Linked DNA regions of Homo sapiens: all the other regions are linked to region 3. Evidence: fine-mapped expression QTL. A gene starts in region 3. Each other region holds a variant in brackets. All regions are shown on one strand. Distances are between the middles of the regions.

Region 1 (5,105 bases), 110 kb after region 3:
AGCTTTTGATTTTAAGTAAGAGATGACAGCCAGGTGCAGTGGCTCACCTGGAATCCCAGTGCTTTGAGAGTCTGAGGAGAGAGGTTTGCTCGAGCCCAGGAGTTGGAGGCTGTAGTGAGGTATGCTTGTACAACTGCACTCCAGCCTGGGTGACAGAATGAGATCCAGCCTCCAAAATAAATAAATAAAGTGAGAGACATGTGACTCTTCTTTCACTTGAACACTGAGAGGCTATTAGGGTTATTAATGGGCCTAATTTCATATTGTTGTGTCTCAGAGCATAGGGAGGTGAGAAGAAAGCAAGAGAACACAGAGACATAAAATGAGCTCAGACTGTTGGGAAAGTGGCACCGATAGACTTGCTGGATACAGTATTACCACAAAACTTCAATTTGTAAAAAACACAGTATCTGCAAAGTGCAATCAAGGGAAGCAGAGTAAAATGAGGTGTGCCTGTCCACATACGATGGAGTATTAGCCTTAAAAGGGTGGGGAATTCTGACACCTGCTACAACATGGATGAGCCTTGAAGACATTATGTTAAGTGAGACAAGCCAGTCAGAAAAGGAAATCTTATATGATTCCACTTACATCAGGTACCTAGAGTAATCAAATTCATAGAGACCAAAATTAGAATGGTAGTTGCCAGCAGCTGTCAGGGAGACAGGGAGGAATGAGAAGTTCTTATTTATTGTGTATAGAGTTTCAGTTTTGTAAGATGAAAGACATTTTGGAATTGGATGATCATGGTAGTTACACAACAATATAAATCCTGTTAATACCGCTGGATATTTTAAAATAGTTAAGGTGGTGAATTTTATGTTATGTGTGTGTGTATACATATTAATAGATATATGGAGGTGGGTCCTGAGCTTTGGTATTTTTTTAAGCTCCCCCGTTGATTTTAATGTGCAACCGGGGTTGAGAGTCATTGATTGGACTAATGATCTGTCTTCCATGCTAGATATGTGCATGCCCCTGAACAAAACTGGGTTGGAAGGTGGAGACAGATACTCTGTAGACACCCAGCATCCACATGAACCACTCTGATTGCACACAGCTTTGATGCTCAGGGCGTGTGAGTACATCATTCAGGTGGCTGCCTGCTTGATACAAATGGCTCTCTCTAGGCTAGGCACGGTGGCTCATGACTGTAATCTCAGCACTTTGGGAGGCCGAGGCAGGTGGATCACCTGAGGTCAGGAGTTCGAGACCAGCCTGACCAACATGGAGAAACCCCATCTCTACTAAAAATACAAAAAATTAGCCAGGTGTGCTGGCACATGCCTGTAATCCCAGCTACTTGGGAGGCTGAGGCAGGAGAATCACTTGAACCTGGGAGGCGGAGTTTGCAGTGAGCCGAGATCGCGCCATTGCACTTGAGCCTGGGCAACAAGAGTGAAACTCTGTCTCAAAAAAGAAAAAAAAGAAAAGAAAAAAGAAAATGAAAGAAAAGAAAAAAATGGCTCTCTCTGCATAAGCAGGAGAGCAATTCAAGGAGAGAAATAATTTGCTTATCCCGCCTCTTAGGAAGTCACTCCTTGTCAGATGTGGTTTGGTGCCCCTGTCAAGGCTTTGCTGACGGGCTCCAGCTAGTCTCCTGGGCAGGCCCAACTGAAGCATGGGGAGGCATTAAACCCGCATGGCTGTGTCATCATCCTCACCAAACCAGATCTGGCCCCACCCCAGGGAAGGCGTCCCTGCCTACCAAGACACCCAAGCAAGAAACATGGGCAACACCCCAGCTCCTCCCTTCCCACACCTCCATCAGTCAGGTAGTCACCAAGCTGAATCCGTTCTGGCTCTTAAATATGTCTCACAGCTGCTCTTACACCACTGCTTGGAAATTATTTCCAAATCTGATTATGCTATTCCATGCATGGAGAAGTTTCTCTATCTCTTGCTGGACGTGAATGATGACACAGCCCCATTTGTGAGCAGCAGCCATTTGGGAATGTTTGGGGAATTGGCCTTTGAGAGAAATCAGTACTGTCCATGCCAAAGTATGGAAATAAAACACAGGGGCCCCAATGACATCACTGAGTGACTTTACCACCCCTGGGGCCACCGTACCTCTGGGCTCACCATTCAAGGTAAAACAGAGTTCCTTATTGCTGAAGCCAGTTTTTACTGAGGTCTTACATTTTTTCATGGTGAAAGGCATTCTATGTGAAGTGATAATTTATGAAAACAGTTTTTTGGTGTATAATTTCATGTTCTCTTAGTTTGAAGAATAAACCAATTGCATCCAGCTGAAGGAAAAGACAGAGAGAAAGAGGGAAAGGAGGGAAGATAGAATGTCTTGGAAGGACTGGGGTAGCTTGTGGAGCTCAGGAAGCTGTCAAAAAAACAAGCCTCAGGAGGGACCAGAAGAGGGGTGGCTCTGAGGAGTGTCATCACCTTCCCTTTGGAGTGCCACCATTCATGTATCCCAGCTCCCGACAACTCCTCCCTCAGATCAAAACTCTAACATATGGAGGTGAGACTTCGGCTGGACCCAGCACTACCCTTGGACCAGTGACCCTTGGCAGGGGGACAGGTCGCAGAGCAGAAATGCAACCTGGGAGCCACTCCTGTAGGATGTGAAGGCAGTGTCCTGAGAACAGGGACTGGAAAGAGCCCAGTAAGTTCACCACAATTGAATATGCCCAAAATCAAGTGGTTACCAGATGCGTTAGTCAGGACTCCTTGAATGAGAATAACAGACATCAACTCAAACTAGTTTAAGCTTACAGGGAAATGTATTGATGTTTATAACCATAGTATAAGGAGGTCAGAGGTGCAGCTGGCATTGGGAGAGTGGGACCCCAGGCCTTGACCTTCATCAGAAGCTTCCCTCACCACTCTTACCCAAGCTTATCTCTGCATGGTGGATTCATACTCTCGGTCTGCCATCCTCCCTGAGATTGGAGTTCTGGGCTTCATTTATTTTTTTTTTTTTTCTATTTCGCTCCTTAAAGGACTTCAGGGAGGAGAGTTTCAGGGAAGATCTCACATTGGCTGCACCTGGATAATAAGTCCGTGGCTGCATCAAATGCTATCCCAGGGGTGCTGAGAACTGTGATGGAACCAGCCAGGTCTGGAGCCAACCCGTGCGAGCAGTGGCTCTGATTGGCAGCAAAGGTTAGGGTTGGGATTGGCATACAGGAGGCTCAGTTCTCTAAAATAAAGTGCCTCCTGGCATCAGAAGCAGGGCAGAC[A/C]AAGTCCCATGATATGCTCTCTGCATCTATAGCATGGCATTTTTCCTACTCTTTCAAAGTCTCAAAATGTGGACCTAATATTGTGTTTGTGGAGGAAGGAGGGCTAGAGCAAACCAAGAAGGCTCATCATACTATATTTATGATGCCCTGACTATTCAACTTACACAAAACGGATTTTAAGCCCTTTGACTAATGAAACAACCATCCCAAATATATTAAAACTAGCCAGAATTTTTGTTGTTAGCGAATGTGTGAAATATGAACAAACAGTGAATACTTGTTCCATTATTTTGCACCTGACCTAGCTGAAATGCTGCTTTATTTTATTGTCCCTAAATTGTTTGATCTCTGGATAATTACACAGATACTGTTTTATTTGCTTATTCATTTATTTTTTTTTCCTCCCAACTTTTGTTTTAGTTTTGGTTGGAGTCAGAGAATGTTGAAAAGGTTTCTCAAATACTAAATTATCTGCAGACCATACAAAACTGTGTTCTGGCTTTGGACTAGAGCATTTTTGTTGTATTTTTTCATGTTGTTTAAAAAAACTTACTTCAAAATGCCTTACTTAACATGGGAAAAAAAGCCGATGGCAATATAAATTACACCCTACCAAGCCTTACTTTCTGTTACACCCTGTTGGATGAGTTACTGAGATAAAATGGGAATTTAGTTATGTTTCTGAGCATCAGTCACTATGTTAGTATGTCACTGTTTTCTCTTTACCCTAGAGAGACATATTTTTACCCTTTTGTAAAAATAGGGAATTATTTCTAGTTTCAAAAGTAATGAATACTCATGGTAAAACATTCACTCCCTCTTGGTTTTAATTTTTTTAAAAGACAAAATAAATCACTATTATTTAACCACCAAAGGAGAAGTTCAGATACCCATTGTTGGGATTAGGCCTTAGCATATTTTCCAGCAAGAACTTTCATATGTATTACTAACAACAAACACAGGCAAATTAATTTGTGTACCTTCTTTCCCAACGCTGTTCAAAAAGCCACAGTGGGGGCGCAGTGGCTCAAGCCTTTGGGCACAGTGGCTCACACCTGTAATCCCAGCACTTTGGGAGGCAAAGGCGGGCAGATCACCTGAGGTCAGGAGTTCAAGACTCAGCCTGGCCAACATGGTGAAACCCCATCTCTACTAAAAATACAAAAATTAGCCAGGCATGATGGCAGGTGCCTATAATCCCAGCTACTCAGGAAGCTGAGGCAGGAGAATTGCTTGAACCTGGGAGGCGGAGGTTACAGTGAGCCAAGATCATGCCATTGTACTCCAGCCTGGGTGACAGAGCGAGACTCTGTCTCAAAAAAAAAAAAAAAGCCACAGTGGGGGCACTGTTTTCATCTCTTTTACAAGTGGAGGATGAATCCGCTGCTGGAAGGGCTGGAAGTCTAGGATGGGAGCTGGACGAGCCTTGAGTGCAGACCACAGGAGATGGACAAAGACAGAAGTTGGTCAAGCACCAGAGTGATGCAGAGGTCAGAGGCCCCTGCGTGGCAGAGAGCCACAGTCGAAAGGGCTGGAGCAGGCACTGGGTCCATCTGCCTCAGACCAGAAGCCACTCGCATCCTTTCTGCCGCAGTGGAGAAACCAGTTGGCCTCTGACATTCTGCAGCCTGGCACCTCGGAGGCTGCTTCAGCATGGTGTGTGGTCAGACCTGGAGGAGCCTACAATTAACTGACAATTAGCCTGACTGGGAGGGGAAGTGGGGACCTCCCTGAGGCTAGTGGCCAGGCAGCCAAATGGGCTAAGACTCTGGCTTCAGATGTGGTCCATTGGGAAGTGGCTGGTTTCTCAAAAGACTCAGAAGTGCCAATTAAATTCCAGCATGCTGAGCAGGGAGCTCGATAAAGGCTTAAAGTCTGGGTGGTACTGAGAATGCATCCACTTTT
Region 2 (5,105 bases), 50 kb before region 3:
TGAGAGGGAGAAACCAAAAAAGTAAATGTAAACGACATAAAGGTATGCAGTGTTTCCAAACAAAGGTGCTATTGGCATTTGAGACTGGGCAGTTCTTCATTGCCTGAGACTATAGCACACTCCAAAATATTTTGAATCCTTAGCTTCCAGTATAAATGCCAATGGTACTCCCCAGTCTTTCAGTCCTGAAACCACCAAAGTAATGCCTATTGCTCCTCACACTTCCAAATGCTCCTGAAGAAACTACACCGCTGTGTATTAAAGGTTTTCCCAGCCTTGGCAATATTGACATTTGGGGCCATATGATCCTTTGTTACAGGTGGCTGTCTTGTGTATTGTAGGATTTTTAGCAGCATTCCTGGCCTCTAATGAGTCAAGGTCAGGAACACCCCTCCCCAAGTTGTGATAACCAAAAATATGTCCAGATATTGCCAAATGTCCACTGGGGATAAAATCCCATCTCCCCTCCTTTCCATTAAGAGACACTTGGGGAGAGGGGAGAAGCAATATGGCTGAATAGAAAGCTCCACCAATCGTTCTCCATGACAAGGACACCAATTTAACAACTATCTATACTAAAAAAAACCTTCATAAGAATAAAAAATCAGGTGAGCACTCACAGTATCTGATTTCAACATTATAACACTGAAAGGCACTGGAAGAGGGTTGGGAAGACAGTTTTGAATTGCTGACACCATCCACTCCCATCTCCCAACAGTGGCTCCTTGCCATAGAGAATCTGTGCACTGTGGAGAGGGAGAGCACAGCAACTGTGAGACATTTTATTGAACTAGTGCTGCACTGTCACAGCAGAAAGCAAAACTGGCCTGAACTCAGCTAACACCTGCCTACGGAGGGAGCATTTTAACCAACCCTAGCTAGAGGAGATTGTCCATCTGAGTAGTTAGAACTTGAGTTCCAGCAAGGCTTGCCACCACAGGCTAAAGGGCTCTGGGGCCATAAATAAACTTGAAAGGTAATCTAGGCCACAAGGGCTGCAACTCCTAGGTGAGACCTAGTGCTGAACTGGGCTCAGAGCTAGTGGACTTGGGGGGCACACGACCTACTGAGATACCAGCCAGGGCATCTAAGGGAGTGTTTGTATGCCACTCATTCCCCAACCCCAGGCTGCACAGCTCTTAGCTCCAAAGACTCCTTCCTTCCACTTGAAAAGATGAGAAGGAAGAGTAAAGAGGACTCGATCTTAGTTCTTGGATACCAGCTCATCCACAGTATGACAGGGCACTAGTCAGAGTCATGAAGCCTCCTTTCCAGGCCCTAGTTCCAGGATGACATTTCTAGACATACCCTGGGCCAGAAGGGAACCCACTGATTTGAAGGGAAGACCCATCACAGGCTGATTAGAGAGCCCTTGGGCCCTGAATAACAAGCATCGATACCCAGATAGTGCCCCTGTGGGCCTTGGGTGAAACTGAGACCTCCTGGCTTTAGGTGAGATTCAGCACATTCCCATCTATGGTGGCTTCTGGAAGAGACTCCTCTGTCTGTGGAAAAGGGAGGGAAGAGTGGAAAGACTCTCATGGTTTGAATCCCAGGTCAGCCACAGTACAATAGAGCACCAGGTAGACTTCTAAGGTTTTTGACTTCAGTCTCCGGCTCCTGGATGGCTCCTCTGTACCCACCCAGGGCCTGAGGAACTTGTCGCCCTGAAGGACACAAGCCTGGCTGGCTTTGCCACTTGCTGATTGTAGAGCCCCAGGGCTTTGAGTAAACATAGTTAGTGGCCAAGTAGTGATTATGGTGGGATTTGGGTGAAACCCAGTGTGATACTGGCTTCAAGTCTGACCTAGTGCAGTCCCAGTGGTCGTGGCCACAGGGGTGCTTGTGTCGACCCACCCTCAGCTCTGGACAGTAAAGAACAGGGAGAGAGAGAGAGAGAGAGAGAGAGAGAGGAAGAGAGATTCTGGGAGAAAGTAAGAAGAAAAAACAAGAGTCTCTGTCTAGTAATCTTGTTCTGATCTTATCCAGGACCATCAAGGCAGTACCTCTATGAGTCTACAAGAACCACAGGGCTACTGAGCTTGGGATGCCCCCAGGGCAGGCACAGCTTAGATCACAACACCTAAGTCCTTTTGAATAACTGGAAAGCCTTCGCAAGAAGGACAGGTACAAAGAAGCTCAGACTGTAAGAACTACAGTAAATACCGAACTCTTCAAATCCCAGGAACAGATAAACATCCACAAGCATCAAGACCATCTAGGAAAACATGACCTCATTAAATGAACTAAATATGGCACCAGGGACCAAACCTGGAGAAACAGAGATATGTGACCTTTCAGACAAAGAATTCAAAATAACTATTTCGAGTTGAAATTCAAATAAATCCAAGATAACACAGAGAATAAATTCCGAATTCTATCAGATAAATTTCACAAAGAGATCGAAATAATTTTAAAAATCAAGCAGAAATTCTGGAGTTTAAAAATGTAATTGACACACTGAAGAATGCATCAGAGTCTTTTAATAGAAGAATGATCCAGCAGAAGAATTAGTGAGCTTTAAGACAGACTATTTGAAAATACACAATCAGAGGAGACAAAAGAAAGAAGAATAAAAAATAATAAAGCATATTATATAATATATAATATAATAATAAAACAGGATATAGAAAATAGCCTCAAAAGGGCAAATCTAAGAGTTACAGCCTTTAAAGAGGAGGTACATAGATAGGGATAGAAAGTTTATTCAAAGGGATAATAACAAAGAACTTCCTAAACCTAGAAAAATATATCAATATCCAAGTGCAAGGTTATAGAACACCAAGCAGGTTTAACCCAAAGAAGACTACCTTACATCATTTAATAATCAGACTCACAAAGGTCAAGGATAAAGAAAAGATCCTAAAAGCAGCAAGAGAAAAGAAACAAATAACATTCAAGGAGCCCCGATATGTCTGGCAGCAGACTTTTCAGTGCTTTACAGACCAGGAGATAGTGGCATAATATATTTAAAGTCCTGAAGGAAAAAAACCTTTTAGCCTAGAATAGTATATCCGGTGAAAATATCCTTAAAATGTGAGAGAAATAAAGACTTTCCCAGACAAACAAAAGCTGAGGGATTTCATCAACACTAGACCTTACCTACAAGAAATGCTAAAGGGAGTACTTCAATCAGAAAGAAAAG[G/C]ACATTAATCAGCAACAAGAAATCATCTAAAGGTACAAAACTCACTGACAATAGCAAGAACACAGAAAAACCCAGAATTATTTTTTATTATAGTTTAAGTTCTGGGATACATGTGCAGAATGTGCAGGTTTGTTACATAGATATACACATGCCATGGTGGTTTGCTGTACCCATCAACCCATCATCTACATTAGGTATTTCTCCTAACGGTATCCCTCCCCTAGCCCTCCACCCCCGAAAAGGCCCTGGTGTGTGATGTTCCCCTCCCTGTGTCCATGTGTTCTCATTGTTTAACTCCCACTTATGAGTGAGAACATGTGGTGTTTGGTTTTCTGTTACTGTGTTAGTTTGCTGAGAATGATGGTTTCCAGCTTCATCCATGTCCCTGCAAAGAACATGAACTCATCATTTTTTATGGCTGCATACTATTCCGTGATGTAAATATGCCATATTTTCTTTACCCAGTCTATCATTGATGGGCATTTGGGTTGGTTCCAAGTCTTTGCTATTGTGAATACTCTTGCAATAAACATACATGTGCATGTGTCTTTATAGTAGAATGATTTATAATCCTTTGGGTATATACCCAGTAATGGGATTACTGGGTCAAATGGTATTTCTAGTTCTAGATCCTTGAGAAATTGCCACACTGTCTTCCACAATGGTTGAACTAATTTACACTTCCACCAACAGTGTAAAAGTGTTCCTATTTCTTCACATCTTCTCCAGCATCTGTTGTTTCCTGCTTTTTAATAATCACCATTCTAACTGGTGTGAGATGGTATCTCATTGTGGTTTTGATTTACATTTCTCTGACCAGTGATGATGAGCTTTTTTTCATATGTTTGTTGCCTGCATAAATGTCGTCTTCTGAGAGATGTCTGTTCATATTCTTTGCCCACTTTTTGATGGGGTTGTTTGTTTTTTTTCTTGTAAATTTGTTTAAGTTCCTTGTAGATGCTGGATATTAGCTCTTTGTCAGATGGATTGCAAAAATTTTCTCCCATTCTGTAGGTTACCTGTTCACTCTGATGATAGTTTCTTTTGCTATGCAGAAGCTCTTCAGTTTAATTAGATCCTATTTGTCATTTTGGCTTTTGTTGCCATTGCTTTTGGTGTTTTAGTCATGAAGGCTTTGCCATGCCTATGTCCTGAATGGTATTGCCTAGGTTTTCTTCTAGGGGAAAAATCCAGAATATTATAACACTCTAATTGTGATGTGTTAACTACTCTTAAGTAGAAAGGCTAAAAGATGAACCAATCAAAAAATAACTACAACAACTTTTCAAAACATAGACAGTGCAATAAAATATAAATAGAAACAACAAAAAGTTAAAAAGCCAGGGGATAAAGTTAAAGTGTAGAGTTTTTATTAATTTTCTTTTTGCTAGTTTGTTTGTTAAGTAGTTGTTATCAGCTAAAAATAATGGGTTACGAGATAGTATTTGCAAGCCTCATGGTAACTTGAAGTCAAAAAACATACTATGGATACACAAAAAATAAAAAGCAAGAAATTAAATCCTACCATCCGAGAAAATCACCTTCACTAAAATGAAGACAGAAAGGAAGGAAAAAAGGAAGCAAAGACTGCAAAACAACCAGAAACAAATAAAAGGATAGCAGTAAGTCCTTAATAATTATGTTATCATAATAACATTGAATGTAATGGACTAAACTCTCTAGTCAAAAGACATAGAATAGCTGACTGGATAAAAAAAATCAAGATCTAATAATCTATTGCCTACAAGAAATACACTTCATCTATAAAGACAGACTGAAAACAAAGGGATGGAAAAAGATATTCCATGCTAATGAAAACCAAAAAAGAGCAAGAGTAGCTATTCTTATATAATACAAAGTAAATTGCAAGACAAAAACTGTAAGAAGAGACTAAGACAGTCATTATATAATGCTAAAGGGGTCAATTCAGCAAGAGGATATAATAATTGTAAATATATAT
Region 3 (5,105 bases):
AAATTCTATCTGCACATGAGTATTTATAACATGCCAAGTGAATGACAAGCTGCCTAGATAAAATGTGTAGATTATGGCTGAATTATAACATGGATTTTTACTGTACAACATTTTAACCAACATTAGTTTCCTAATACTGGTGGAGACTGCTGGTTGCCCACAAAAAAATTCTGTCCTCCACTTCTTCCACAGGAATATAGCTTAAGCTTGACATAAGGTTGCCCTGCTAGAGATAACATTTCCAATTGTTTCTCACTGATGGAATGTTAGTGAAAGTGATGTGTGAACTTCTGCCTCACTTGCTTAATAAGACATTGCTGCTCAGAACACTCTCTCTCTTCACCCTTTCAGGAGCTGAACTTCAGATGTTCAGCCCTAACCCAGATTCAACCATGCAAAAGAGGACGATGACCTAAGGCTCAGTTTCAGGGCATGGTGGAGCAATAAGATGAAAAGAACCAGAGTCATGGAGTAGGGCCATGGAGCAGAGCTTCCTACTAACCTCAACTGCTTGCCTTAGAACCATTCTATGAAAGAGAAATACATGTCTGTGTTCCTTAAGCCACTCTATTTTGGGGTCTCTTTGTTATAGTAGCTTAACCTTTATCCGAACTAGTATTAATATATCCATCATTGATTCCTTTTAAATATGTCATTTTGTAATTGTTACATATATACAAGTGAGCAAAGTACAAATAACTGGATTTCTGCCCTGGCAAAAAAAAAAAAAAAAAAAAAAAAAAAAGGTCGGGGGGCGGGATGTGAAATGTATTTCCCACAGGTATGACTAGTGTTCAGTGATCAAAGAACTACAGGGTGTTTCTCTGGTATCAAGAAAAAAAAATTTTTTGCATGACTGCAAGCTACTATTTGATATCTCTGCACCATTACAGCAGTCTTTCAGTCCTACCACTTCTCAAAGATGTTGATTTTTGTTAGGTTGGTTGGGAAATTCATGTTCAGAATAATCAGACTGGGCCTTAGAAAAAAAAGGTTCTGGGGAAATGGACTTTACCACTGCCCAGGAGGCTCAAGATGTCCTACTCAAGATGTTCAGAGCCAAATTCTCTTGAGGATTCCTTCCTAGATTGAATGACTCCAGCACAATACACCTTCTTATCATGATCTCACTAGGCCTTATAGAGCTTGTCTCAAGGTTATTTTTACAAGAGCCTTATAAGAAAGACAAGAAGTGAGGATTATCATTTCATTACAGGGATAAACTGCGACATATGGTGACTTACATCAGGTGACTTGGTGAGCCACTAGAAGCTGGAATCAGTAACTGATCCTCCATGGAGATAAAATGCTCTGTCTACAAATACAATTCTTTGGCAATTAACTTAATGCTGCGTGTGCCATGTTTTGCTTTGCCTATTTTTCCTAACTGGTAGAAAGAAAAATCGAAGCACTAAATTCGGGAGACACATGATGCAAGTGCCTTCACAGGAAAACATATTTCTTTAACACATAAGCAGAACAGGTCCCCAACGATCACAGCTCCAGCTTCTAAAACCAAACCACAGGGTTTTGCCTCACACCTGTAAATGACAGCCAGAAGCATTGTGGAGAGATGCTTCCACCTCCTGGGCCGGACATTTCTGTGTGTGATCCCGCCAGACATGACAATAACTCTGCGTGTCTTCTGTAAGAGGAAAATGGTTTCCCTTAAGAGCTTCAGCATTCTCTCAGTCCCCTTGACTTTGCTCTCCAGACAGGACTGAGAAGCAAGAAAAGTAGAAACTAGGGCATGAAGGGGACTACATCATCCTGGAAAGTCACATCCCAAAGACATTCAGGCCTAAAAGGACAACTGAATAAATAAGGCATTGACAGGTGTTCATTAATCATTTGTGCAACCAAATTCTTAGTAGGCTTTGCATGGACAATCAGGAAACATGCAGGTTTCTGCTGCAAACGAAAGACGGGGTTGAATTGCACTTTTGTTGCAGACTGATCACCTGGGCCTAATTTGATTGTTGCCTCCCAAGGGATCTCTGAGCCCAGGAGGGAAATGTAGGAGGGAGGAGGGAAAACCAAGGCCGGCCTGCAGGATGTTTCCTTTGCTATCTTCTGCTGAGTGCTCTAAAGCAGGTGCAGGTGCAATGAGATACCTAATCCTGTCCCCAGTCCTCCAGCACTTTGTTCTCTTCTCGTTTAAACTCCCTAAATGGTCTGGTGGGGTTTTCCCAGTGTCATTGCTTAAAGAGAGGCAGAGCGGAAAGAAAGAAGTAGGAGAAAGCGGTAAGCATCTTTGTTCTCAATGCGGAAAACCCAGAAGGGACTTTCCTTCCCACCCACCTGAAAATGTTCCCCAGTTGCCAAATCAGAAGGGCAGGGGCAGCGACGCGGAAGATGACTCAGGGCCCACTTTGAACCTCCTGGGTACTTGAGCAAGCTCAAGGGTGTTCGGACCTCTAGGGAGACGTTGCATCACGCAGTTTGGAAAGAACTTGGGAATTCTCCCTGGGGGGCTCGCTGTATTTACTGGGAACTAGTCTTGCAGGAAGGTGAGAGTACGTGGCTGGCTGTGGGGAGCTGGCGTGGGAGGAAATCCGACTTCACCTTGGGCTCAGAGTTGCAAGGAAGGTCACTGTGGGATCAGCCTGAGCCCAAAAGGATGGGCTAATGGGAGCGGCCGCAGGTGCACGCGCGCTCGGCCGCTCCCATTAGTGTTACGTCTGCCGGGGGAAGAAGGTGGGGTGGGGGGTTGGGGGCGCCGGGAGAAGAGAGGCGCAGTTCGGAGATCGGCACTCCTCCGTCCAGTTACAGGCGGTCCTGCCCCCGTGGCCGCCCGGGGCCGCCCAAGCCCTCCGGGACGGAGAGAAAGGGGGACGCGTTGCGCAAGGTGGAGGCAGACACCTGGGCGGGCGCTAGGACCCGGGCGGCGCACCTGTTGGCTGGGCCCGGGGCCCCGCCCGCCCGGCCTCCGCCCGGAGTGCGGGATCGGCGGGGGCGAGGCGGGAGTGGCGGTGCCAGCGGAGGGCACCGGCCCGGCGTGGCAGCGGCGGCGGAGCGCGGCCCCGGGCACACCATGGCCGAGCTGCTGCGGAGCCTGCAGGATTCCCAGCTCGTCGCCCGCTTCCAGCGCCGCTGCGGGCTCTTCCCCGCTCCGGATGAAGGCCCCCGGGAGAACGGCGCGGACCCCACGGAGCGCGCGGCGCGGGTCCCCGGGGTCGAGCATCTCCCCGCAGCCAACGGCAAGGGCGGCGAGGCTCCGGCCAACGGGCTGCGCAGAGCCGCGGCGCCGGAGGTAACCATGGGCAGGTGTTCGCCGGGTACGGGGAGGGGGCGGCTGCGGACGTGCGGGTCCCTGCGACTCCGCCACGCGGGGCCGGCCGGGCCGAGAGGGCGCCGTCCCCGGCAGTGACCCGGCTCCCGCCGCTGCGAGCGGACGGGGAGGCCTGGCCTTCCAGTAACCAGGATGCCACCCTCCAACGCTGCCAGGGGCAACCGGGTCTATTGAGATATCCCCAGACGCTTTCAATGCAGTCCATTTAGAGACTTCCCACTTTCAAAAGTAGTTAAATTCACGTAGATGCCAGCAAATATGTAAGAGTTACGTAATGGAACGGAGGAGCGGGGATGTCCTTGGCACTTCCCCGGGGAGACGTTCTTAGACTCCCCCCCACCCCCGTATTCTTGCATTTCCGCCCATCCCCCTTCCCTGATGCGCACAAATGCGGGTGCAGCCGGGCTCAGCGCGCTCCTCACCGCGCTGCACCGCCAGCTCTGGGCACAGAACTTGGGGCTCACACAGCTCCTAGAGAGATTTACAACCTCCCTGCACTACCCCCGGCGATGATGTCTTAACAGCAACTCTCGCTTGCCCTCCCCCAGAGTCTGGGGGTCCCTCCTGCCTGGTGGGTCTTTTATGGACCGACACCAGTGACTTCTAACAGATGCTTCTGGGAGGGAAGCTCGCTACGCTCCCGCTAGGTGTTCAAAGCGTGGTTATACAACCCACTGCGGCTTGGGGGGAACCAGCGTGCGTCGTCGTCGCAGTGCACAGGGACTTTAGGCAGCAGGGACCAGACGGGCTGCACTTGGCTTCTGGGGACGCATGTCTACCGGGAGCACTGGCAGCACCTGCCTTTTCCCTCGGCAAAGTCAAAAGTGTGGCGCAGGAGAACAGAAATAAACGTATTAATAATTCGAATTCCTTGTACACAGCCACATTTTGTTCTTCCTAGAAGGTTTTGGTGAAAGAAAGGTGGCCTTTACTTACGTGTAAATTTCTAGATGTAGTAACTGAGGAATTACGAAGAACCTGGCTTCTGTGTGGAATGGAATATTATAGGCATTGGATTACAGAATTTGTTTGGGAGGGTGAGGGTGGTTGTGTGTTCTACTCCAGAGAAATCCTCCTCTGTATTTTTTCCTCTTTATTGTTCCTTCTTTATCCCATGTGACATTCCGGTAACCTATAGATGAGTATGAGAACCCCTCTTTTTTCTCTTGCCTTGTCTTAAAAACGGGGCAGAGTAGGGGGGATAAGAAATCAGCTGGGCGTGGTGGTGCGGCCTGTAGTTCCAGCTACTCCGGAGGCTAAGACAGGAGAATAGCTTGAGGCGGAGGTTGCAGTGAGCCAAGATCACGCCACTGCACTCCAGCCAGGGCGACTGAGCGAGACTCCGTCTCAAAAAAAAAAAAAAAAAAAAAAAAAGACCAAAACAAACAAACAAACAAACAAAAAACAGTCCCATGGCTGAAACGTGCCGTGACATATTCGGTGCACACACTGTTTACACCCACAGGTAGACACGTGAGTTGCTTTCTGTTGCTCTCTTCACAAGCTTCTACCCTGTTTCTCTAATTCAGGAAGCTGAAAAAGAGTGAATTGTTCCACCAGTGCTTCTCAAACTGTTTTAAACATCACCCCTGGTAACTTAACTTTAAACTCCACAGTTGGATCCTCTTGACCTTTAAAAGCAAGCTAAGCAGATTTCTTACACAGTTTTATCTTCTTACTGCTTGACAATCCTGGTGGGTCTTCAGTGAGTGAAATTGTGGCGGTTTCCCCACACCCACCCAGCCAACACAGGACTTCTGCTTACAGATCATGTAAAAGCAAGAAAGCTGAATGCCCAAGATAAGAAATCATT
Region 4 (5,105 bases), 180 kb after region 3:
TCCCAAAGTGCTGGAATTAAGGTGTGAGCCACTGTGCCCAGCTAAAGGCAATATTTTAAAAAAGAATTCCAACAGTCCAAATGAACACTGATAACAAACTGGTACATCCATACAGTAGGATACCACTCAGCAACAAAAAGGAACAAACTGTAGATAGACTTGACAACCTGGATGACTCTCAAAGGCATTACGCTGAAAGAAAGAAGGCTCTCAAAAGGCTACAGACAGTATGAGTCCATTTATATGACATTCTGGAAAAGGCCAAACTTATGGGAACAGAGAACAGATAGTAGTTGTCTGGGATTAGGTATGGGAAAAAAATGCAACTAAAATAAGGCGTTTTTAGGGTGATGGAACTTTTTGATCTTGTAGTGATAATTATAATCATCTAAACCTCTCTCAATTTACAAATCTAATGTGATCTTAAAAAAAATACCAATAGAATTGAAAAAAATTACATAAATGGATTCTAAAGTTCATATAAAAAAACAATAGTGATAGAGGGAGACTACTAGATATTAAAATTTATACATCTACAGCAATTAAAACAGAGTGGCAATAATTTGTGAGTAGTCATACAGATGAGTGGAACAGAACAGTTCAGAAACAGATCTAAATACTTACAAGAATTGAGAATATGATAAAGGTGGCTTTTCTTTTTTTTTTTATACCATATTATCCAGTAATTCTACTTCTTTTTTTTTTAATTTTATTATTATTATACTTTAAGTTTTAGGGTACATGTGCACAACGTGCAGGTTTGTTACATATGTATACGTGTGCCATGTTGGTGTGCTGCACCCATTAATGAGAGAAGTGATATCTTTATGATGCTGCGTATTTCTATGAAAGAACGTGGTGTATCTTCCCATTTGTTTGGGTCTTATTTCATCTCTCATTAGCACTTTAACATTTTCTACAAATAATATTTCTTGTGTTTATTCCTAAGTATGTTATCATTTATGTTTTGTGCTATTATAACATGGGTCTTTTCTTCCCTTAGAGCTTGAAATTAGACATATTGTATCTATAAAAGCTATTGATTTCTGAAAATTAATTTATTAAATTTTTATTTTGTAAAAAAAAAAATCATCTAAACCTGTAACAAAACTCATTTTTAAAAAGAAGTACCTAAGTATAGAGAGGAAGACTGAAAGTCAGCAGTCATCATTTAACTTTATAACACTTGTGGCCCTTCAATACATTCTGGAGACCGCTGCTCTAACACAAACATAGAACGAATGCTGGCCTCATTTTGCTTTCCAAATTAAAAAGAGAAAAAACAAACTAATATCTGAGGGAATAAACTGAAAACAGAAAGCTGCTTCATGTTAGCATACATTGAGCAAAACTTCTTCCACGGATTTACTCCCATAGGTAAAAGCTACTAGCAATAGTTGACATAAAATACAGAATGCCTTTTATCTTCTAGATATCCAAGTAAAACATGAATATTTTAAGACACTGTACTCTAATATTAAAATAATATAAAAGTAAGCACATAAATGGAGGAAAACGAAAACTAACATTAACTGTTAATCTGTGGTATCGATTATCTGGCACATGCTAGGTATTAACTATCTGTCAATTTATCTATAATCTTATTTAATTCTCAAGACAACCATGCAAAGTAAGTATTATTATTCCTATAAAACAGATGGAGAAACAAAGCTCAGAATGATTAAGTAACTTGGCCAAAGTCAAACTAATTGGCTGGAGCTAATACGATTAATTATATTATTATTAATATAATTAATATTATATTATATATTATTATATATATTAGATAATAATAATAAATATAATATTAATTATATATATTAATTAATTATATTGCTAATACGATTAATTATCTGGTCAAAACCAGGATTTGACCAGAATTAACTGACTGTAAAACCCATGCTCTTTCCACTATAGGGTACACCCAAAAACATTTAAATGAAAACAAACAATATAAGGGCAAGCTTATGTATGGCTATATATCCACTTAATATGGTCAAAGATGTGCATTGTTGAGGCCAGGCGCGGTGGCTCACGCCTGTAATCCCCGCACTTTGGGAGGCCAAGGCAGGCGGATCACAAGGTCAGGAGATCGAGACCATCCTGGCTAACATGGTGAAACTCCGTCTCTACTAAAAATACAAAAAAAATTGGCCAGGCATGGTGGCAGGCACCTGTAGTCCCAGCTACTCAGGAGGCTGAGGCAGGAGAATGGCGTGAACCCGGGAGGCAGAGTTTGCAGTGAACCGAGATCACGCCACTGCACTCCAGCCTGAGCAACAGAGCGAGACTCCGTCTTAAAAAAAAAAAAAAAAAGATATGCATTGTTGAAATGTTTTTTATATGATAAACAGATGTTTTATTTTCAAAAGTTTTTGTGAAACTTAAGAATTCCATTTAAGCAACTGAAATAAATTATTTTTAAGAGTCAGTGAAGTTTCTAGCCATGAAAGTATTGTTACTTATGGAAAGTATATTCTGAGTTGAACTTCGGACTGAACAGATACAAAGAAATAACTGCCCTTGCCATTTAACATTTCTCAGTACACACTATATTCAAGGCGCTCTATTCTAGATATTCTTTGATGATAGAGGTCAAAGCCAGTACAAGACATCTACAACCTAAACCGTCAGTAATTCTTCTTTGTTTCTTTGAGACAGGGTCTCACTCCAGTAGCCCAGGCTGGAGTGCAGCAGCATGATCTTGGCTCATTGCAGCCTTGACTTCCCAGGCTCAGGCGATCCTCCCAACTCAGCCTCCTGAGTAGCTGGGAGTACAAGCACACATCACCATGCCCACTGA[A/AT]TTTTTTTTTTTTTTTTTTTTTTGTATTTTCAGTAGAGACAGGGTTTTACCATGTTGCCCAGGCTGGTCTCGAACTCCTGGGCTCAGGCAATCTGCCTGCCTCAGCCTCCCAAAGTGCTAAGGCTACAGGCATGAGCCACCATGCCAGACCTCAATAATTATTTTCTGAGTAAATGCCTACAGCCTAAAAAGAAGATAAGCACACACAAATAGCTATTAAACAGGGCCAGGAGCAGACAGTGGGCCATATCTATGCCAGCTGAGATAAGCGAGGAGCATACCACTGTCACCTCCATCATTTCCATTTTTAAAGATAAAGAAATTTGGTATCTAAAAGCTATAAGTCGACATTAAAATCAGACAGGCACAAAACCTCACTAAACCAACCATATTCATAAACTAAATTGAAGAGCCTGATTCCACTGTAGGAATACAAACTTTCTCTCTCTCTCTCTCTCTCTCTCTCTCTCTCTGTGTCTCCCTTTCTTTCATTCTCTCCCTCTGAAGGGAAAAAAATGAAACGAAACAGAACTAAATTATCCCTTTCATACTACTGACTTGCTTCTGGGTATTTTTGCCATGTGGTACCCATTTGTTGGTGTGGATGTCACATGCTTCCACTTTAACACACAGGCACGTATTGAAACAACTTTGGAGTTCCATTTTTGCTGTGAGAGAAGAGCCCAACAGTAATACTACCATTAAGAGAGAGCTTAGCAACTAAACTGGAAGCTTTATTTTGGTAATCTTTGCCAAATTCCAAGTACTTTTTTCCTGATTTCTAAATTATGTAAAGCTTTTATATTTCTGATATGAGCAGCAATATCTGGATTAAAAATTTAGAATTTTAAAAAACAAATTAAGTAAACTTGTGATGAGAATAATAAAATCACAATTAAAAAATATAGAATGTAGGCCAGGCACAGTGGCTCAGGCCTGTAATCCCAGTACTTTAGAAGGCCGAGGCAGAAGGATCACTTGAGCCCAGGAGTTTCAGACCAGCCTGGGCAACAAAGTGAGACTCCATCTCTACAATAAATTATTTAAAAAAATGTAAAGATTAGCCAGGCACACTGGTGGTGTCATATGCCTGTAGTCCCAGCTCCTTGGGAGGCTGAAGTGGGAGGATCCCTTGAGCACAGGAGTTCGAGATTGCAGTGAGCTATGATCATGCCTGAGTGACAGAGTGAGACCCTGCCTCAAAACAAAAACAAAAACAAAAGAGAACTTAAAAAATTTATACTCTATTTCATTCAAGAAAGGTTTCAGGATGTTTATAGCATACACATACAATAATGAACTATATATTTTTAGATTTAATTTTGCAATATTTTTAAGAAAAGCCTGATTTCTAGGGCTTTGTATTAAGCCCACCGTAATAATTAGATTAACCTCATTATTTAGGCGCCCCCTCCCAACTCCACACTGATTGGCTGGCTTTTTACGTTTCCCAAGGGTTATTGCTCTCTCCGGACTTACTTCCTTATATCTTGCTAAGATACTCCCTCTACTGTAGCTGAACTGAATCAAAGGAGAAAATAACCACAAACTTATTTCCACCCATTCCTCCTTGAAATTGCTGGGTATAGTAACATTCCCATTTCCTAGTATGTTGCACTAAGAGACCATACTACATCATAGAAAGTCCACTGACTACACACCACAAAATAAGAACTATTTAAAAGTCATGCCAAAGCTGGGGTTTGTTGGAAATGCCTCAGTTCTTTTATAACTCAGTTAACAGACTGCTTGTGTCATGCCATCAAACAATTCTGCTTTTTAAATGGGCCTGGCAAGTATGTCAGCCTAAATTATCTATGTATTTCACAGACTTCAAAGTACTGCCTGGAGAGGGCTGATCTAAGCTGCGCAAAGGAGGGGCGGCTAGCTACAATTCTATAAGATGAAAGAACACGCCAAATGATTTTTTAACAGAAAAGAAAAAGGAGTGGTACATGATGTCCCCTTGTAAATGACTATTACATATAACTCAAATTTTTCAAATAGGCTCCTGTTTGGTATAGATCCTCTTCCACCAAAGTACCAATGATTAAAAACTAAGGTGTTTGGTTATGTTATCATACATGGCACAGACTGGAAAAGAGCAGAGTCTTCCAGAGAAACTTTCCACTCCTATTCTCACATTCACCTAAAAGCCCAAAGAAAGATGCTAGGAGAAAACCTATTGGGAGACCAAAACAGCTTCTAGAATAATCAGAGGCTGATGTGGAGCTTGAGGTTAATAGTCTGGCCAAATTCAGAAAATAAAACAAAGCAACTTGATTCTTCTATTCCATCCAAC
Region 5 (5,105 bases), 39 kb after region 3:
TCACTCTGTTGCCCAGGCTGAAGTGCAGTGGCATGATAATAGCTCACTGCAGCCTTGAACCCCCAGGCTCAAACACTCCTCCTGCCTTCCAAAGTGCTGGGATTATAGGCATGAGCCACCACATTCGGCTGTTTTTCGAATCTTTTTACCGTCTTTCTCTCCTCTGTGTTCTACTCCAACTGGACTTTCTTTTGACATTGTCTTGTGATTTACATTGTTAATAGAAATGCAAATACAATGACCATTTATTGAACACATGCTGTGTGCCTGATGGGGTAGCATGTGATTTACATAAGTGACTCCATTTCCCCTTCCAAATGCCTTAGTAAAGAAGCTGGTGTTGTCCCCACTGCAAGGTGAAGTTATAAGTTCAGACTTCCCCAGAGTTACCTAGCATGTCCGGCATTGGTCCCAAGGCTGGTGATGACACCCAGAGCCTCTTAGGCAGCAGTCCCCAGCCTTTTTGGCATCAGAGACCAGTTTCATGGAAGACGATTTTCCCACGGACTGGGCAGGTGGGGGGATGGTTTTAGGATGATTCAAGCACGTTGCCTTTATTGTGCACTTTATTTCTATTATTATTACATTGTAATATATTAATATAATGAAATAATTATACAACTCACCATAATGTAGAATCAGTGGGAGCCCTAAGCTTGTTTTCCTGCAACTAGATGGTCCCATCTAAGGGTGATGGGAGACAGTGACAGATCATCAGGCATTAGATTCTCATAAGAAGTGCACAGCCTAGATCCCTCGCATGTGCAGTTCACAATAGGGTTTGTGCTCCTATGAGAATCTAACGGGGCCACTGATCTGACAGGAGGTGGAGCACAAGTGGTAATGTTCACTCACCCTCCACTCATCTCCTGCTGGTTCCTAATGGAACCAGTCCATGGCCCAGGGGTTGGGGACCTGCTCTTAGGTTCTGTTCATATTCGTTTATCTCAACCACAGCTGGCTGGAGCCAACAAAGGAAGTCTCCAGCTTGTGTACAAACCCCTGTGACTTCCAAAGTATAGAGAACTTGGCTTTACCTGTGTGAAATGGGTTAGGGGACTGTCCCTCTGCCTCAGCACAGCGACCGTCATGAGTCATGCCTGTCCCCAGGTCGTTCTTTATTTCTTCAGCAGTGTATCTCTGAGCTGTGGTCCTTGAGAGGCCTTAAAGCGTATGCTTGAAGCTTTTGCAAAACATGGCAGAGAGATCTTGGGTCCTCAGGAGAATAACACAAGCAAACATCGTAAGGCCAAGAAACTCAAGCAGATGGTGGCGGGGAACATGGTCAACACATATGCTTATTTGGTCAGGTTAAGGAATGAGCAGGGTAGAAAGAGGTCCATGGGAATGGGGTCTCCATGCACCCCAGCAGAAGTGAGTAGGGAGCTAGAAACGCTCTTGGGTGACAAGACTCATGTTAGAGCAAAAGTGAGCAGGGAGTAAGCAGGGAGTTAGAAGACCCTTGGGTGACAAGACTCATGCTCACGTCAACACTGGTCATCTGGTGGGCTTGTTTGCTGTAGGGGTCAGCTGTTGGATCTGCTGTGAGAATGGGTGGATGAGGAAGTGAAACGCAGCAAAACTGGATCTAGACAGGTAAAAAGCTAAGCTCAGCCAAAAGAATGGTCTGAAATAATATTTAGGGACCTAGAGAAATGCTCACAATGTAATAATGCTTTAAAATTTAAGATTTTCGATCTTAATCGCAATCACAATTTCGTTAAGATACATAGCACCACCTGCACTCACGATTATGCATAGTAAAGGGACCACGAGGAATGTTCCAGAGGATTGTCTGAGGGGTGGGACAATGGCAGTTTTGATTTTATTTTTATATAGTTTTGGAACTTCCATGATGTTCTCAAGTAAAATGTGTTAATCAGAAAAAAAATTGATAATCAGATAATCAGAAAAACAAACAAACAAAAATTCTCAGAGCACAAAGCAAGCAGGGTCGGAGGAGGTAGTCTGGGTGGGAAGGACCATTGTTCCCACCCAGCATGGTTTTCTTCTTAATGTTCTTTCATGTGTATGCACCCAACTTCAAAGCTTTTC[C/T]TGAGTTTATTTTTGTGACGAATGGCTTTAAACTTCCTCAGCGACAGCCTCCCATTGGGGAACTACAGTGTGAAAATGTGACGGAAATTGATGGAACTTCTCAAGAATTTCTGCTCTAGGCAAGACTTTAGGAGGAGCGTGGAGACAGCAAGACTCTTTTGGCAAAATGTCCTCCCTCTTCCATTCTGTCCCCACTTAGTCTATTCCATCCCTGACTGATCACGGATATCCACTACCACATATCCACAGTCACCCCAGGGACTGGGAAGGATCAAGAAAGGAAAATCCTTCCCAAGCACTGTCTTTACCATCTTGGATTCCTTTAGAGCTCTGAAAAGCAAAGGGCTGGATTCAAGAAATGGGGAAGCGGCTGAGCACAGTAGCCTATAATCTCAGCATTTTGGGAGGCAGGAGGATTGCTTGAGGCCAGGAGTTCAAGAACATAGTAAGGCCCTGTCTCTACAAAATATAAAAAAAATAGTTGATCATGGTGCCACAGAAGGGTCTCTTGAGAATTGAGCCCAGTCTGGACTACAGAGTGAGACCCTGTCTCTATTTTTAAAAAATGAAAGAAATGGGAGGAGTAGCATGAAGATACCATTTTGCTTCAGCCTCCTTCTCCACGTACACATGCACCCACTAACATGACTGTCCTGAAAGAAAATTCCAAGCTAAAAATTGTGTGGCCATTTAGCCCAAATAAAGAGGGAAGTGGGAAAGCCCTTGTATAAAACCACCTTGACTTTGGTGACAAATTTGTCAGACTTCAGTTTTGTGTTTGTATGATTTACCTATTTGCTTTTAAAATCTTGGTACATAAAAGATTATCACAGAAAAAACTTTATTTATGCCTGAATAATTTTCTTACATTTTTGGCAGTGCCTTTTAATGCTTCAGAAAATGTTTTTTGAAGGGAGGTAGGGATGGGTGAGGACATGCTGCCAGGTTAGAAGAGACTGAATCAACCCTCCCAAGTTCTGAATCCTGTACGTGTGTTGGGGTGAGGGGAAATGCCTGGATGAAAACGAGTAAACTGAAGTTTATAACACTCCTTCTCGAACATCATACAGCTCTTCCAAGTATCATTTCGATAAGTTAATATAAATGAATCAGAAACATCTGCCTGCCAAATCCCTCCGCACATACAAGGGCTTAATAATTAAATGGAAAAATGTTCGGTTCAATGTGTTTCAGGTTTTAGCAGATCCAAGATGTTTTGAAAAACAGTTAAGTTCTTAAGACATTTTGATTATTTAAAGGGCAGCTGGCTCTCCCACCCACTTTAAAAATGGCAGTGGTTATTTCTGTTCTTTGTATCGATGCCAATGTCTCTTATTGTCTGTGGAAGAAATTCTCTAGCAGAAGTTCACATTCCTGGTCTCTGAAATGATGACTGCAAATTTCTGTCCTATCCAGATAAAGGCTTGCTTCTAACCCTCTCACTATCCTATGCCCAGATTTGGTTCCTAAGCAAATGCTGTGTCCTTCAAGTACAGAGGTTTTTTGTTCTTTGCTTTTTTGAGATAGGGTCTCACTCTATTGCCCATGCTGGAGTGCAGTGGCATGATCATGGCTCACTGGAGCCTCTACCACCCAGGTTCAAACAATTCTCTCACCTCAACCTCCCAAATAGCTGGGACCACAGGTGTGTGCCACCATACCTGGCTAATATTTTTAATTTTTTGTAGAGACAGGTCTCACTATGTTTCCCAGGCTCTTCTCAGACTCCTGGCCTCAAGCGATCCTCCTACCTCAGCCTCCCAAACAGCTGGGATTACAGGTATGAGCTACTGCACCCAGCCCAAGCACAGGGTTTTAAGTGATGATGAGACAGTGTTTTTTCTAGTTACAAGACCCTTTTCTAGAGTCAAGAAGAGCATTGTTGCCACCATGGGTCACTGTCTCACAATTTCAAGAATTTCTTAATTTGTAGTCCTGGTCCACCTTGAGGAAAAGGAAGAAAAGATATTAGATGTTCAGAGGATGAGCTGAAATATGACAGATTATCAAGAGGAAAACAGTTCAAATTGTGTAAAAGACTACAACTGAAATTCCACTGTAAAATGAAAGCCACATTGGGCTCAGTCCCCTCAACCCTCCCTCCTATCCTTGGACGCAGCAGAGGGATCCCGACAAACGCCCACTAAGCAGGTGACAGTGATGAGTGTGCAGTTCCCTCTCAAGCTGACTCCAATAAGTTGTCCTTACATTTTATTGACTTTCAGTCTCGCCATCCTGAAATTTTAATCACCTGAGCGCTGCTTAGACATTGGCTAGATCACCCAACTTGTAATTCTATCTGGACTTGAAGATGAAAGAAGAAGCCCTCGTGCATTTTTGTTCCTTCTGTTTTCTCCTTCAAGGGACACTGTCAGTCTTTCTTAGGCTTCCTGAGTAATCATCATTTAATTTTCTTTATAGGTTGGAAAGTCTTGATTCTCTTAAAAAAAAAAAAGTGAGTAATTAAAAGTGACGGGCCAGGTTAGTAAATAGATTTGTGAATTCAGGACACCACAGGTCTCCCTCATGGTAGAAATGATGCCATTTCACCCCAGTGGCTTTTCAGTTCAGAACTGGGAATTAATGATATTTTCTCACCAAGTTTAAGAAATCAAAAAACAAAAGAATTAAAGCAGGGCTTCATCCCACTGTTTCAGAGCCAAAATTTGTTCTAGTCTCACCAGAGTAAATCCAGTTGTGCTCCCATTTAAAACCCTCCCATGGCTTTCTGCTCCTTCCAGCCTCAGTCTCAAGTCTGGGCTTGGTTTCACGTCTGCTCTTGAGGTCATCTCCTCTCTGTCTCTTTCACACATATCCCAGCAGGCAGAGCTGCCTCCTGCTTGGGGCCTTTCACTAAGTGTTCTCTCTCTGACCCGCAGACCCTCAAAGAAGCAACACCTCTCCTTATCCAGGGCTCAGCTCAAATGGCTCCTCTGTGGCAAGCATCCCCAGACACACATTGATCACTTTGTAACCCATTTCCTGCTTTAATTTCGTCATAGCACTTATTGCTAAATGAAGTAGTCTTGCTAGCTGGCTGTGGTGGCTCA

Alleles and levels. Alleles are on the strand shown, and positions count from the first base shown. SD is a standard deviation of normalised expression in the study named. Not every link is listed here.
For the expression in fetal neocortex of the gene that starts at base 2,975 in region 3, allele C in region 5 goes with a higher level than allele T (large effect, 0.91 SD a copy in Walker 2019).

The links. PIP is the estimated chance that this variant, and not a neighbour inherited with it, causes the effect.
Region 1: its variant is the best candidate, but not a certain one, in a credible set for the expression of SGPP2 in whole blood (INTERVAL, PIP 0.66).
Region 2: its variant is the best candidate, but not a certain one, in a credible set for the expression of SGPP2 in blood mononuclear cells (TOPMed, PIP 0.51).
Region 4: its variant is the best candidate, but not a certain one, in a credible set for the expression of SGPP2 in whole blood (INTERVAL, PIP 0.62).
Region 5: its variant is the best candidate, but not a certain one, in a credible set for the expression of SGPP2 in fetal neocortex (Walker 2019, PIP 0.66).

The regions. Positions count from the first base shown.
Region 1 is chr2:222,530,862-222,535,966 of GRCh38, forward strand. The region is part of intron 4 of SGPP2 (sphingosine-1-phosphate phosphatase 2); the gene reads left to right. Among named protein-coding and RNA genes, the nearest start is that of SGPP2, 110 kb to the left of the region's middle. RefSeq lists an enhancer at 4,763-5,105. The variant A/C (reference allele first, on the strand shown) is at 3,201.
Region 2 is chr2:222,371,145-222,376,249 of GRCh38, forward strand. No RefSeq gene overlaps it. Among named protein-coding and RNA genes, the nearest start is that of SGPP2, 51 kb to the right of the region's middle. The variant G/C (reference allele first, on the strand shown) is at 3,146.
Region 3 is chr2:222,421,569-222,426,673 of GRCh38, forward strand. SGPP2 (sphingosine-1-phosphate phosphatase 2) reads left to right here and starts at 2,975. Exons shown (of 5, transcript NM_152386.4): 1 at 2,975-3,253. The coding sequence starts at 3,035. RefSeq lists enhancers at 2,219-2,518, 3,709-3,858, 3,909-3,968 and silencers at 2,679-3,028, 3,119-3,348, 3,359-3,408.
Region 4 is chr2:222,601,919-222,607,023 of GRCh38, forward strand. All of the region lies in intron 15 of FARSB (phenylalanyl-tRNA synthetase subunit beta), which reads right to left. Among named protein-coding and RNA genes, the nearest start is that of FARSB, 52 kb to the right of the region's middle. The variant A/AT (reference allele first, on the strand shown) is at 2,804.
Region 5 is chr2:222,460,926-222,466,030 of GRCh38, forward strand. All of the region lies in intron 1 of SGPP2 (sphingosine-1-phosphate phosphatase 2), which reads left to right. Among named protein-coding and RNA genes, the nearest start is that of SGPP2, 39 kb to the left of the region's middle. The variant C/T (reference allele first, on the strand shown) is at 2,056.